Linked DNA regions of Homo sapiens: region 1 is linked to region 2. A link means that fine-mapping ties the variant in region 2 to the expression of a gene that starts in the linked region. Tissue or cell type: T cells. Region 2 holds a variant in brackets; the other region holds the start of a gene. All regions are shown on one strand. Distances are between the middles of the regions.

Region 1 (7,364 bases), 110 kb after region 2:
TCCACTCCAGCCTTCCCCAGATGAAGGCAAAGCCCCTCAGGGAGGAGCTACTTCCTGCTGGCGGGCTAATGCCACGTCAGGCTGGAGACTCAATGCTGTGACCCCGAGACGGGCGAGCGCCCCCCAGGTTGCAGAGCTGCTTAGCGGGAAGGTACCGGAGCCTCCTCTCAGGTTCACTTGGTATCACCAGGACACCAAGACAGAGAGGAATGAAGGGGCTCGCCCAACGCCATGCAGCTCTGGTGCAGAGCAGCAGCAGAAAGACCCCCTAACCAAGTTCAACCCCAAAAATGAATTTTTCACCGAAGTCAGAGAAGGGATAGAATGGGAGCATGTGAGGGGCTGAGGGGAAGGAAAACTGGAGACCCTCAGTTCTGGCATGACAAAGACGTGCAGAGAATTCTGTACATGCACCAAATATCTGCCAAATTAGGAAAATGGTTCTGGAGTCCACAAGGATTAAAAGGAACAGAGGACATTTAGTCTTATATGTCGCAACTATGCCTATCAGTTGAAATTTACCTGGCACTTTGTTAAACAGCACTCTTAATTTCTTTTTTCCTTTTCTCTGCATACTAAATTTGATATATTAATTAGGTGTTTTAATCTAAAAAATTCATCGGAAGGTCTAGCATTGCCATAGCAACCGTGCAGATTCAGTAAACTCGAGACACCAACACAGCACCAGGGCCTCCTTAAGCCAGTGCTGCCACGGGGCCACGAAAGTACCAGGCAAATGACTGCACCAACCTGAAAGGGGTGGGACTCAGGGGCAACAGTCCCTTCCTAAAAGACTCTCCTTTCTCCTTCCAAACTGAATCCCTTCCACCAACACGAGTCCCCGGCATCCACACTCAGAGGTGCAGAACATTCTTCTGCAAACCCTGTGCTATGACTCCCAAGTTGTCTGTGCCCTGCCAGTGACAGGAAGAAGCGGAGGGAAGCGGTCACCGCCCAGAGATGTCCTCTGCTATTCGGGCCAGGGCCTAGTCTTGCCCTCCTGATTTCACCACACAAAGCCCAGCTGAGTCCCGGCGGGTGCTCAGTTTGGGGATGTGGCTGCATACCAAGCCATACGGAGCCAGCAGCATCCGTGGGACACCGTCAGCCGAATCTCTGCCGTCCTACTACAGGCAAATACGGTGATGCTGGGGATGTGAAAGAATTCCCAAGTCAGACCGTGAGCCCCACAGACAGACTCTGTGCTTGCTCTTTTTGCCTTTCTAGTGATCCTTGAATTCTGTGACATAACACACTGTGAACACACAGGGAAGTCTACCCTACAAAGCTGAAGGCAGCCCAGTGCCACACCACTGTCTCCACTCCCACCCCCGGAGAGCACGGTGCCGAGACCCAGAAGAGCAGCCAGCTCTTGGCTGACACCAGCAAGTGCTAAACCAGATGCGTTTCTCAGACGTTCTCTCAACCCGCAGCCAGAAACGAGAGGCAAATCTGCCTCCTGATCAGCTCCTAGTTCACTCTGGGCTTTCTTTACTTTGAATATTTATGTTAAAAACAAAAACATTTCTCAAACATTCACCATCGTGAGTTCTGCTGTCCCGAAGTTCAGGACACAGTGACGGGCCACCCTGGAGCGTGTGGGGCCTGGTGTGGCTGGGCCTTCAGCCCTCCTTCTAGGCAGCACACCATGAATCCCCGGTGCCGTCTCCCGGAGGAACGGCGGTGCACGGCCCCACACTCACCAACGCCGGCCTGAGGTCGTATTACTGTAATTTCCCATAATGCTTAAATTATTTATCGCAAGTAAATAGCCTGGCTCCTGAGCGCTGGGCTCTAAAATTTTGAAGGATCCATCATACCTCTGCACGCTATCTATAAATGAAAAATGCACATTTCAAGTATTTTAAGAAAATGTCAAAAAACATGAAATGTGTCATCAATGTACGATTTTAAATGATTTGCATGTTACCTGTAGAAAAGAGCTGTATGTCTGCATGTGACTGTATTACAGTGCCCACAGGCAGACGCGGCACCACATCTCCCTGCAGGTGATAATTCGGGGGTCCCCGGGGCCCCCTGGCACCCCGGGAGGTGTCCCTGCAGGCCTGTCCCATGTCACCTCACCTGCCTTCTCTGCTTTCTATGGCGCCCACGGCTGCACGGTCACTCAGGAGACACCAGTCCCCGGGGTTGGCGGCTTTATCTACAGGACTCAGCAGCGCACTCGTTCCTGGCAGGGCAGGTCTTTGCACAACGGCCTGGCCCTGCCTCCAGCGCACATGGGTGAGCAGAGGATGGACACCGCGCGGTCACCAAGGAGACTGAGCCTCTGAGCGGCCGGGCCCCGCCACCTGTGGGGCAGGAGCCTCACTCGCACTCGGGCGGCACAGGTGAGCGCCTCTCTAACTGCAAAGTACAAACGAGCCCGCACGTGGGCCCGAGCGGATCACGGAAAGCGGAAAGCAGGGCTGCCACGGGCGGTGGGCGGAGGCGCGCGCAAGCCCGGAGACGCCACAGCCGCGGGGGACCCTCGCCCCGAGGGCCCGGGCCCAGCCTGCTCCTCCTGCGGCGCCGCCACTAGAAACGGAGGACGCGGGCGGGCGCCCAGAACTCGCGTGGGGCCGCAGCCACCCGGCGCGAGCTTCTCCGGAAGCCGGGGCGCCCCGGGAAGCCGTCCCGGACACCGGGGGAACCCCTGCGGGAAAAAGCCGCCCAGCCGCGCCCGCCCCTGCAATAGCGCGCGGCCCCCACGTCGTCCCCGTGCCCGCACTCACCGTCCTCCTTGTCGTCAAACACCGGCCTCCGCGCGGTGGCCGCCGACATGGACGAGCCCATCCTCTTCTTCCACTTGCTCCACTGAAACAGGGGGCGCGGCTGCGAGCGGACATCGCCCGAGTCCCGGGCCCGGGGCTGGCCAGCAGCGGGCGGCGGCAGGGCCGAGGGCGCGTCGGAGCCGGCGGGGCGCGCGCGGCCGGGGGGCGGCGAGCCCGGGGACGCCGCGGCGCTGCTGCCCCTGCGCTCGGCGCCACTCCTCATCGCCGGGTCTGGGTGCGCGCGGCAGCCGGAACTCGGGGCATGGCCGGCCGGCAGGGCCGGGAGCGGCAGTGGTAGCGGGAGCGCTCGGGGCCGGCAGCGCCCGCCGTGCGCTCTTCTGGGCGGTGGAACCCGCCCCGTAGATTGCGAGCGCTGGGGGCGGGGCAGGGGCGGGGCTTCTGGAAGGGGCGGGGGCGGGGCGGAGCTCCTGGAAGGGGTCGAGGCGGAGCTGAGCGCCGGGGCGTGGCAGGTGCGGAGCTTCGGGAAGGGTAGGGGCGGGGCCGAGCCGGGGGCGGGGCAGGGGCGGGGCTAGTGCCTGGAGTGTCGCTAGGGAGTGGGTGGCCGCCACCAGTCTAGGGATGGGGGCTGTGGTTCGCCGGGACACGGGGACCACGGCTCAGACTAGACGGCGGGTACGAGAGCGAGGGAGGCAGGGAGCGTCCCCACGGGTATCCTGGGGCCCCGGAGGTCGGCGTCCCTGGCACGGGGACTGCTGTGCCCGGCACGGCGGCGGGACCTTCTCGCGGTCTCCGGGGGCCTCCCTCCCCTGCCTTCTTCGTGAAAACAGCCGGCGCGCGGGCTTCCGCCGCCCAGTGCGGGGAGCCCTAAACTCCAGCCTTCTGCTTTGCGCAGGGTGAGGCCGGGCTGCAGGCCCGGGATGCGGGCGGCGGGAATCTGCCGGGCAGAGCCCGGCTCACGGTCAGGAGGCGGCAGGCTGAGTCCAAGCGCTGCGCCAGAGGGTGGGGTGGGGCAGGGCGGGCCTGGCTGCGCGCGCGCACACGCGGGCGCCTGGGGTGGGCGCTAAGCCCTGAGCACGTGCGCCCGCGCTCTCGGGCACCCCCGTGCCATCCTCGCGACCCCCGTCCGGCCTGAGACCGCGTGCCCGAGTCGCCCAGGGTCCCCTTGTCCAGATGCGACAGGGGCCTCGGCACTCGGCGTATTTCGGAGGCCTGGGGCGCGGCTTGACCTCCGGGCACCTCTGCCCCTGCGCAGGGCCAGGCGCGACCTTGCGCGGAAAGTGCTGGGCGCCTTGGAGTGCCCTGGAGAAGGCGCGGCTCTGCATGGAGCCTCGCCGCCTGCCCCTGGCGCTTGTCACTGAAGAATCAGTTTTTGCTACCGGGCTGTTTGACTTTAGGAAGCCTTTACCTCCTTAAGTTCTGCCCTGTAACCAGGACACAAAGACGGGGTCTCTTCCTCCTCGGTGAAATCCTAGATGGGATTTCCTGCTGCCCGCCCGGACGATGAGCGGATCCCCAACATGGCTCCAAGGCCAGTGTCTCCCGCTCCCGTCCCTCCCACCGCACACAACTGTCTACCCTGTCATTCAGCCACTGTGAGCCCTGCCTCCCCACGGCCTTTGACATTCAGTGTGGCCGCCCGCCCTAACCGCCTGATGCATGAAATGTGAGCACGGGAAGTCTGTGTGGCTTCTGGGCCAACAGGAGCCCCCATCCCTTGGGGACTATAAGGAATGGAACCATGCCCATCTACCTAGGACATGCACCCGCCTGGACATGCACCCGCCTGGACATGCACCCGCCTAGGACATGCACCCACCTGGACATGCACCCGCTTAGGACACATGGCATGCATTTCACTACTGAGATTTAGAGGGTATTTTTATGGCAGCATAACCTAGGTTACCTGACCAACCAGCCACCGCAGCTCTCCCTGCCTGGCTAGCACAAACGCATCGGTCTCTAACTTCCAGTGCACAGAGCCGAGTTTTCAGCCCTTGCAGCTGCGAAGCTCTGTTCCCTGCTCTCCCTCAAAGTTGCCATTCTCCAGCAGGCACGCAGAAGGCAGTGGGTTCAGCACCTGCCTCAGAGGAAGCCCTCGGTGCCCATCCCAGCAGGAGTGGTGAAGGAGCGTTTGGAAGGGGAGGTACCAAGGCAGGGCAGTGCCTGGAACCCTGCGTACCCGGTGCACACATCAGACTCCCCAGGGCTCCTCCCAAAACACGCAGCCTCTGAACTTACATCATCGCCTCTCCTCCTCTCCCTCTGACCCCTAAAAGTGGCAGAAAAGGAATAAAAGATATAACGTCCCCACCACCACCTAAGAGGGAACAGGAGAAGGGAAGACATGTTAATAGACTTCAGACAGCAGGTAGAAAGCTGACTCTGAAGATTGGAGAGGCTGAGGACCTGCAGGTAACCAGGACCCCAAAAGGCGGGAGAATGTGAATACAGCCAGAGCCCAGGACGCCTCCCCGGCCCGGGCAGTTGGGGATGGACAGTCCTCTGGTCTGAGGGTCCAAAGGGGCTCTTGACCTAGGGATACCAAGTCCTGCAGAAGACAAGAGTGCAGGGGGGCAGAGGGGTTCATGGGGACATCTGCACACTTAACTAGGAGACCCTCCAACCTCACCCTTGCTGTGAGCCTCAAACACCAAGCCAGGCACCTGCCTCTCAGTCAGGAAACAGGAAGGATCTGTAGGGAAACAGCAGCTCCCAAAAGAATGCCGGGTCCTAAGATTTGGCCAGTGCAGATCAGCCCTGGAGGGGCCTGTGGGCTCAGGGCACAACTCTTGTACTGTCCAGGTGCAACTCTTGTACTGTCCAGCCACGGCTCAGGGTCCAGGCAAACACAAGACTGAGCGTTAAGAGGTGCACAGTGTAGGCATGAGACAGGAGGGGTCAGGAACTGCTGTCCCCAAGAGGATGCCAACCCCTGGTGCCTCATGGGAGGTAGCTCTGAAGTTCTAGGGGGATGCTGGGAGGGACTGAGGCTGGGACAGAGTCAGCTGTGGATGGGAAGGGGCAGTGAGGCCAGTAGAGAATTCCTGAGTTCCCCTGTGTGCCCATGCTGCCCGGGAACGTCAACTTCATTAGGGCAGCGATGGTGTCTGCCCCTTCCAATGACAGGAGACCAAGTGACAATGTGACAGATAAATGCATTCAGTGCACTGACGTCTAGCACGCAGGAGCACACAGGAAGGCACATGGCTGGGCAGCACGTGCATGATCGTGGGACCACTTTAGCTTGGGTAGTCCAGCATGAGTCTCTGAGCAGGTGACCTTGATGCTGAGGCCGGAGCATGAACGAGTAGCCCAAGGGAGGCCAGGTGTCCGGGTTCCAACAGCAGGAGCTGGCCCTAAGGTAGAAACCGGCTTGTGCGGGAGGACAGGAGGGTCCATGCTGCAGGACAGCAAGTGAGTGGCCGTGGCATGTGCTGAAGGGCTGGGGGTGGTTTGGGGGACAAGGTGCAGTCCCTGACACCAGGCTTCATGTGCATTTGTTCATAATTCGTCCATAAAGCCACGCCTCCTGAGGGACATGCCTTGGACATGGGTCCTCCGTTGCCACATAATTGGCACACAGCTCAGTCACACCGAGATGTGTGCTTCATCTTCTGTCATCATTATGAAATTAACACATGCTCTGCCCACGCCTTTGTTAAGAGTCCTTTTATTAAATCTCCTCAGATCACACGATTCGTGTGTGCTGTTTCCTGCTGGAAAACACATCTCAGAACTGACCCCCAAAACAGGAAATGGGCTCCCATGGGACTCCGATGCTGGTGTCCACCTATGTGGAGAATCCACGGACAGCCTCCCTCCTGGGAAATGGAAGACAGATGGCCGTGGCGCCCTCAGATTCAGCCCTGGCGGGGCCTGGGACTGAGGATTCTTGGAAGGCCAGGGCCTTGGAGCCCACGTGTGGGGACACTTGGTTGCTATGGTGACAGTATTGATTTTAAAGGTCATGTGGCCACCTGGTGACTCAGGAAGGAGCACAGCGACGGAGAACATGCAGGACGGGCTGCAGCCACTAGGAAGGAGCCCTCGCCCCCACTGCAGTGCGCCGGGGCCGAGCATGAGTTCACCGCTCAGCTCTGCTTAAGGACCCACAACCCCAGCCCCTGCTGCCACCATCATCACGTTGCCTTTTCATCTGTCTACTCCGCCCTTTTCTTCCTCTATAAGGACACTTGTCATTGGACTTAGGGCCCACCCTACTCCAGGATGATATCATCTTGAGATCCTTAACTTAGTTACATCTGCAAAGATCCTCTTTCCAGATAAGGTCACATTCACAGGGCCGGCACGGACATGTCCTTTGGTGGCAAAAGGCCACCATTTAACCCACCACATCCATGGGCAGCATGGATTCACCACACCCTACAGCCCCAAAGTCCCAACCATTACAGCAGCAACTCTAAGTCCAAAATCCCAGCTCAAGATTTTTTTTGAGACAGAGTCTCACTGTGTTGCCCAGACTGGAGTGCAGTGGTGCTATCATGGCTCACTGCAGCCTCGACCTCCCAGGCTCAAGCGATCCTCCCATCTCAGGCTCCTGAGTAGCTCGGACCATAGATCCATGACCCCACCCCTGGCTGATTTTTTGTGCTTTTGGTAGAGACAAGG
Region 2 (7,993 bases):
ACGCCCACGGCCTGATGGTCCTTCCTGGTGGCGTTGACGTCCACACAAGGCTGCAGATGCCTGTCCTGGGCATGACACCGGCTGACGACTTCTGTCAGGGCACCAAGGCAGCGCTAGCAGGAGGAACCACCATGATCTGTGAGTGTCTGGGTCTCCTCCTCTACAGGGGGCAGCCAGCGTCTGCTGCCCCTCTCTCTGGCCAGGTGTGTGTGGGAGGAGGAGTGTCGCCTAAAGGTGCCTTTCTCAGCTGTCTGCCTTTATTGCATCTGTCTGAGAACCTGGAGTGCTTTTCTAATCCCTGTGTCTCACTCTGGGTGTTTCTGTGTGGCCAGTGCTGGAATGCTCCTGGGATTTCCAGGACTGGAAATCAGTGACTGACGTGTGTCCACTTGTTCTTCCCTGGGCACTAGTAGCCAGCTCGGAGTTGGGGGTTGGAAAACTCAAATGCCTTGGGCGAGGGGAGGGGTCATGCTGTCTGAAATGCCAGATACATGTTTGACCTTGAGCCACATGCCTCGGAAGCTTCATATCTGGAAGGTTCTTGCTCATGTCAAGAAGAGTTAAGGATGGAGACTGTATTTTTAGAAAAAGATAAAAGCAATGCTCATTATTATCCCATCAAAAAATAACCCGAGTTGCTATTTCTGTAGTGCTGGCTGCGTGCCCGGCACGGGCTCTATCCTGACACCCATCGGCTCACATGCTCTCCTCCTAAAACCCTCTGAGCTCAGCCCAGCTGGGCTCAGCTAAGCCTAGTTTAACAGGTGGGTGAGTGGAGTCCGCCTGCCCACCACGAGCACGTGGTGAGCTCAGGAGGCAGGACGAGGCCTCAGAGCCTAGACCTTGACTGCACTGTGTGGCCTTGGGTGCCATTCACTCTGCGGCGTCCGTCTGGCACAGACATCGCTGCTGTGGTTGAGAACGGGTCTGAGGAGCCTAGCTGAACCTGGTTGTATGGTTTTCTAGCTGTGTGACTCCAGATAAACTCAGCTGGCTTTTATAAGTCACACTTTGTTGATCTGTAAAACAGAACACTGGCCTCATGAGCTTCTGAGGCATGTGTGAGTTAATGCACGTCAGTTGCTTTGTGTCCCTGGCACACCGGGGAGGGCAGCTCTGAGGACCCTGAAACACCTCGCGGGACATTTAGCCATTACCAAATCACAGCTTGGTTTGGTTTACTCAGCCACAAAGGGAGAAAACACCAGCAGCAGCCCATCTTGCAGTCTGAGGAGACTGGCCACTGCTCGCGCCCTTCAGGGGGCGGCCCAAGCCGGTCAGGACGTCTGCACAGTCGAGACCACCTGCCTCGTGCCAGTGCCAAGGCACCCGGCCAGCTGTGGGTCCCCGCGAAGACAGAGAAACACCACAGACACGAGGCTGGCCTCTATCCTGCCTCTGTCTTCCTCGGCCTGCAGGCCCAGGCTGGCACTGTGGGTGGCTGCAGGGAGGCTGGGTGCCCACTTCATCTTGTTGGGATGAGTAGGGGCCCGAGGGAGGGCTGTGCTGGAGGAAGGCATCCCTGGCGGGTGCGCCCTCCTGTCCGACCACCTGGCTTGGAGCTGTGTCTGGCTGCACCAGGAGAGGCCAGTGAGCAGTGTTCGGGCCTTGGGTGTGTGGTTGGTGGGGCAGCAGCATGATGGCTGTGTGCAGGGGGCAGGATGGCCCCTTTCAAGTCTTGTGGGGCACTCGGGAAACCAGCCCAGCTCCCACTGTTCTAGGAAGGCACCCAGAGGTGGGGCCCAGCACCTTGGACAGCGCACTGGCCCAGCCTGGCCCTCGGGGTGCCTCACCCAGCCTGACAGGAGCTGGAGGCAGGGCAAAGCCCCGACCTCCTGTGCTCCTCCAAGTGCGATGTGGGAGTAGGGATGGTTTGGGGTGGGGCTTTTCCTTTCTCCCCTCTCCCTTCTGTGCTCAGAGGGTGGCTGGGGCACTTGGGACAGAAGGTTCCTCTTTGAACAAAGCAATAGAACGGGTTCGTGGCAGCGTCATCCTCTCTCAGGGGCCGGTGGCCTCTGCTGTGTCTCCCTCAAATGGTCCTCTGGTCTCTTGGGAACATGAAACAGAATCTCCCATGGAGGAGGCAGAGGTGGGAACCAGGGACCAGTGGGGGAAGCTGCTGACCATGCTGCCTTCACAGTGGACCACGTCTTCCCCGACACGGGTGTGAGCCTGCTGGCGGCCTACGAGCAGTGGCGGGAGCGGGCGGACAGCGCGGCCTGCTGCGACTACTCCCTGCACGTGGACATCACCCGATGGCATGAGAGCATCAAGGAGGAGCTGGAGGCCCTGGTCAAGGAGAAGGGTGAGGGTGGCTGGAGGGGCTGGAGGGCGGGCATGGAGCCTGGTGGAGGAGCCTCTGCCCTGACCCTGTGTTCTGCCGATGGTGCTGCTCTGCCCTGGGGGCTGGTGTCCAGGTTTGAGTGGAAGTTGGAGAAAAGTCATTTGAAGGCCCATCCCACCTTCAAAGGCTCTAGACCAAGAGGCCTTCTCTTTCCCAATCCGAGGGACCCATCCTGGAATTGTCCTCCTGATGAAAAGATGCAGCAGATCCGTCGTTTCTTAGAAGAGAGGCTGCCCAGGGTGGAAGAGCAGCAGTTCCCCAGTCTCCTAGCATCTGGGGATCCTTTCAGAGGGAGACCCTTTTAAATCCATATCTCTTTGTTGTCACCAATGCTAAAACAGATCAGTCTATAAACAAGTTAACATTTTTCCCCACAAAAAACCCTGAAGCTAAAACTACATCAGAGTTTCATAGTGGGTTTGACAAGTGGCATATCTGATTATAGCCGATCTCTCCTAATCTGAGTCCGGCCCACAGCTTCCAGCCTGGAGGTGGGGGCGGGATGGGGTCCAAGCAAGCCCAGGAGCCTGTCAAGGCCCTGGCACTCCCAGGGATGCCTGCTACCCGTCCCCTACAGACCTGAAGGAGGCAGGGGCATTTCTTCAAGGCCATTCCTCTGGGTTCCCATTCCTCAGAGGGTGACGGTCATCACATAGGTGCCCCTTGATGTCAGGACCCCTCACCTCCCTGCCCGGGGGCTGGTGGAGCCCGTCAATCCTCAGTCCCTGGGCCTCACTCCAGGCAGCTGCTCTGCCACCCATGCTGTTCTGTGAGTGGACTCGGGAGGCCTGTGGCCTCGTGTCTCAGAGCGGAGGTGGAAGCAGGGCCTGCACCTCCCCTCACCCTGTGTTGGCAGTGCTGGGGCCTCTGCTCCCCAAGAGCCATGCAGGAGTCCTCAGTCCTGTGCCCACGGGGTAGTGTTGCAGGGACAGCACTGCGCAACCCAAACATGACCTTCCTCAGACACTCGGGGGCAGGCCTCAAACTCCAGGTCACATACAGGTTGCTACCTGGAGGGATGGCTTGTGGGGCACAGTGTGACTCAGTTTCCCCAGTGTGCCTTAGCTTGTCACACTAGCACTTTCCACCCAGCGAGGAGGAGATGCCATGGGTTGGGTGGGCTTGAGTGATGGGAGGTTGGGATCCTGCCTCCAGGCCCAGGCCGGTCCCCACACAAGTTCCGAGTCCTGGGGGAGGTGGATGGGCTGTGGCTGCCCAGGAAACAGGAGAGCTCAGCCCTCTTCCTGTTTGGGCCCCAACGTCAGAGGCAGCCCCTCATCCTTCTGCTCGTCCTAAGGGCCCAGCCCTGAGATCTGGGTGGTCCCACAAGCCTGCACTGTGAGCCAGGCATGGCAAGTGGGGCTCCAAGGCCCTGCAGGCAGGTGCTGGATGTGCTGGACGGCCAGAATGCAGGTCCCCAGCACAGCGCGGCCCTGGCCGCACTTCCAGGAGGGAGCCAGTGGAACCCAGGCCGAGAGCCCAGGCACAGCGGCTCTTCCAGTAACGGGGGGTCTGCTGGATGGGTGTGAGGGGTTCTCACCTGCATTTGCCGCTGGGTGGACAATCAGTTCCTAACCCGGAGCACAGGAGCAGGCAAGGAGGGCCTGGATGTAGCTGCCTCCGCCTCACTTCCCAGCTTGCTGGTGTGTGCATGGAAGCGGGGGACTGCTCCCAGGGCTGGCAAGCCAGTGAGGGAAGCACTGCGGGGGAGGGGCCCAAGACCCCCAACCCTCCAGTGGGCAGGAGCAGCAGAGGCTCCGTAGGTTGTCTGACTGGTGATGGCTGAGCCTCTGACCCCTGCCTCTTCTCCAGGTGTGAACTCCTTCCTGGTCTTCATGGCATACAAGGACCGGTGCCAGTGCAGCGACAGCCAGGTAAGGGC[AG/A]GCGTGGGGAACGGAGTGGGCAGGTATATCCCAGGCCGCTGCTGGTGCAGGCGCAGCCCCACCCAGGACGCCACCACTTCTCTTCCCAGATGTACGAGATCTTCAGCATCATCCGGGACCTGGGGGCCTTGGCCCAGGTGCACGCTGAGAACGGGGACATCGTGGAGGAGGTGCCGTGGGGCAGGGCTGCCGTGGGGCAGGCACAGGGGCTGCCGTGGGGCAGGGGCTGCCTGTGGGGTGGGGCAGGGGTCTGAGGGTGACTTTCATGATACGCAGACATCAGCACAGAATCCCACAAAACCTTGAGGGAGGGTCATAGCTTACCCCGAGTCAAAGGTCAACCAGTGAGTTAGAGAGACTGGGGGGTGATGGGGAGCTTTGAGGCCATAAAACAGCTTCTCCTTGATCAACACTTCTTATCCAAAATACCTCAAAAGCAAAGTGTCAGCCCCAGGGATCGAGGCCCCTCCTGTGGAGCGGGGTACCCGCTGGGGGTTGGGTTACCACCTTCCTTCCAGCCAAGGGCACCCATGTTGACAGGGCCACATCCTTCAGACACATCCCACCGGGCTGGGGAGGGCCTGAGCCCGCGTGCAGTGGCGCCGACCCCCCAGGCCCTTGGGGCTGAGGCAACCTTGGCCCTGCACCTTGTTTTCCCCTCTAGCAGAGGCACCCACAGGTACAGATGGAGTTCAGAGAGTGGGCCACCCCATACCCGTGGGACCTCAGTGGGGGTCACCACACAGGACACACCTCCCTGACACTGCAAACCCACAGTGAGACTTCGTGGGACGGGACGGGCTCTGCCCACCTCCTGAGCTCTACAGGAAGGTGGTGGCACTCGGGCAGGGGCATGTGGGGGGTCCCCAGTGTCCTCGTCCACCCGTCCAGCTGTGAGGGCATCGGGGCATCACAAACACTTCTGTGGCCCAAGGCCAGGCCCCGGCTGCACCGTCAGGAGGTTGTCCTGGGTCTAGGGATGCTCCACATACAGCGGGAGGGAGCCTCAGTATTGGGGCTGCTGCTTCTGGCCGGTACCATGTCTTCCCTGACACGAGCGGATGCCGTAGTGCAAATCTGCACGGAAAGGCAGTGCTGGAGGAAGGAGTGGTCGTCCATTCCTGACCTGCAGAGCCCTCCCTGCCTGTGCACACCCCCACACATGCCCCCGCTGGGGGAGGCAGCGTGATGGGCATAGTGGTGGGAGGGTGGGGTCTTGGTGCCATCAGTCAGGAGCCCTGCAGCCTTGGGGGAGCCACTTTCCCCTATCCGAGCTGTCCCCTCCTTGGTAACTCAGGGAGCAGGAATCACACCTCTCCAAGCCCCTCTGCCCTCTATTCTGAGTGTTCTGTGGCTGGGAAATTCTGGGAGGCCTGGGGGTCCAGGACCACTTGGGGAATGGGGCCTCCCAGCCTTGGGCTTAGCATCCAAGGCCCAGGCTCCCTTCAGGGCTTGGAGCGAGGCATCCTGTTGGTTTCTTTAGGAGCAGAAGCGGTTGCTGGAGCTCGGCATCACTGGCCCCGAGGGCCACGTGCTCAGCCACCCCGAGGAGGTAAGATCCCAGGGCACCACAGCACACCCGAGCCAACTCCGCCCAGACCACTGCTGCCTGGGGCTGTGCTGACCCTGGCCCTGGGCTCCTGGCCCTGCCACTGTGCTCGCCCCGACCTCATCTGGGAGGCGTGAATCCTCCCCGTGCCAGGCACTTGTCCTCCATCCCCCCACAACCCTACAGCCTGTACCCGAGGCCCAGAAGGTGGCGTGGGCAGGCCCAGGCACTGAGCCCGAGGCTGGGCCGCTCCTACTAGGCTGCCCTGAGCCTGGGATCCCATGGGTGACACCTGGGCATCCCCATTGCCCACACTGGTCTGGAGCCCCAGGGCCCTCGTGTGGCCTCATCCCTCTCATCTCGTCCCCAGGTGGAGGCTGAGGCGGTGTACCGAGCTGTCACCATCGCCAAGCAGGCAAACTGCCCGCTGTACGTCACCAAGGTGATGAGCAAGGGGGCGGCCGACGCCATCGCTCAGGCCAAGCGCAGAGGTGAGCACCCAGCCCCGCCTCTGATGCCGAGGGGCCATGGTCTCGGCCTCCTGGGTGCAGCCCTGGGGAGATGCAGGTTCCCTGAGTCCCTGCATCGGGGCGGGGCACTGGACCCTGAGTCCCTGCATCGGGGTGGGGCACTGGACCCTGAGTCCCTGCATCGGGGCAGGGGCTGGACCTGAGTTTCCAGCCTTGCTGGAGCAGCAGCTGCTCACCAGGGGCCCTGAGGCAAAACATGGGGACGCTCATCCCATTTCCAGTGGGGGTGGGTGTGGGGAGAATGGAATGATGAGGAGGGTCTCCAAGAGAGAATTCCAGTTCCAACAAGGAGGCCCTCCCTACATTGCTATTTGCTGTGTCCAGAGCCGGGGTGCTACCTGCCCACAGAATGCCAGCCAGCTGGAGCCTGGCACTGCAGAGAGCCTCAGGCCTGGGCGGGGGGGTGCCACCCAGAGCTGTGATTGGCAGCGGCTTGACTGTGGTGTCCCCCAGAGGCTACTGGGCTCAGAGGGTCCATGGAGCCCCAGCAATCACTGGGGCTGGAGAGGGCCAAGGATCCAGGCACAGAACCCAGGTGACGGGTAAATGAGGGGGCATCCCCTAGGCGGCCTCTGGATCTGGTCTGGTTTCCCCTCCTCCTGCTGTCCGCACTGAGTCCTGAGAGACCTCGTTTTCTGGGCCTGCCTGGGGCTGTGCAGGTCCCTGGGCAGGGTGGGGGGCGGGGTGGTGGTGGTGGTGGGTGGTGCCCTTCTATGTGTTTCCTGCATCGAGGGTTGAAACTGAAACCCACTCAGTTAACTGGGAAAAGGACTCTGAGGCGTGCAGGTGAATGGGGGTCTGCAGGGGTGAGGCCCGGGCCTCACTCAGGACACCAAGCAGCCTCGGGGCAGCAGGCCAGGCCCTTCTCAGGGGTACCCCACCCGCCAGGCTCTTCTCGGGGGGTGCCCCACCCCACCTGGGAGCATTTCTCCCCCACCCACTGGTGGGAGCTGCCTCAGCTGTGAGCTGGAACCCTGGTGAGGCCATGGCCAGGGCACCCCCGGCCAGTCAGCCGCCATGCAGTTCACTGTGCCTCGCAGCCCACAGGCACGCCCTGGCCCCGCTGGAGTGCCCGGGGTCCTGGGGTGGGGTGTGGGCAGAGAGAGGACTTGGCGTCCGCAGGCCAGACTCCCTTTCCCAGAAGGACCCCCAGGGCCAACCACGTCTGCCCGCGACCCAGGCCTCTGCCCCACTTCCTGCCCAGGGCCAGGGACTCTAGACTGGGCACAAGCTGTCCCAGGCAAGGAAAGTGAGGGGCAGTCGTGGGTGTCAGCAGCAGCAGTTCTCGGGGCCCCAGGGGGTGCAGGTGGTCGGTGGGGCACCTCTCATGGGCCTCGTGCTGCAGGGGTGGTCGTGTTTGGGGAGCCCATCACCGCCAGCCTGGGCACCGACGGTTCACACTACTGGAGCAAGAACTGGGCCAAGGCCGCAGCCTTCGTCACATCACCCCCTGTCAACCCAGACCCCACCACGGCGGACCACCTCACCTGCTTGCTGTCCAGGTAAGCAGCCTCTCCAGGTGGCCCCAGGTTGGCCGCCCGCTGCACACCCTGCCAAGGCTGTGGCCCCGACACCCCAGGCCTCTCCCACGGCTCCCATAGGGCAGCCCGGACAGTGGCGGGTGGGGAAGTCTGAGCCCTTTGGTCCCAGCGGGGGCTCCCCTGGCAGGAACCAGTCCCCGCTCCCC

Evidence for each region. PIP is the estimated chance that this variant, and not a neighbour inherited with it, causes the effect.
Region 1: STK32C starts here. The variant in region 2 is fine-mapped to the expression of STK32C in T cells (TOPMed, PIP 0.95).

The regions. Positions count from the first base shown.
Region 1 is chr10:132,304,837-132,312,200 of GRCh38, forward strand. It overlaps STK32C (serine/threonine kinase 32C), which reads right to left and starts at 3,114. Exons shown (of 12, transcript NM_173575.4): 1 at 2,736-3,114. The coding sequence starts at 2,997. RefSeq lists a silencer at 2,938-3,587 and enhancers at 3,840-4,384, 4,385-4,927, 6,569-6,863.
Region 2 is chr10:132,192,705-132,200,697 of GRCh38, forward strand. It overlaps DPYSL4 (dihydropyrimidinase like 4), which reads left to right. Exons shown (of 14, transcript NM_006426.3): 3 at 1-138; 4 at 2,141-2,305; 5 at 4,157-4,218; 6 at 4,317-4,397; 7 at 5,711-5,779; 8 at 6,147-6,267; 9 at 7,652-7,808. Among named protein-coding and RNA genes, the nearest start is that of DPYSL4, 9.8 kb to the left of the region's middle. The variant AG/A (reference allele first, on the strand shown) is at 4,227.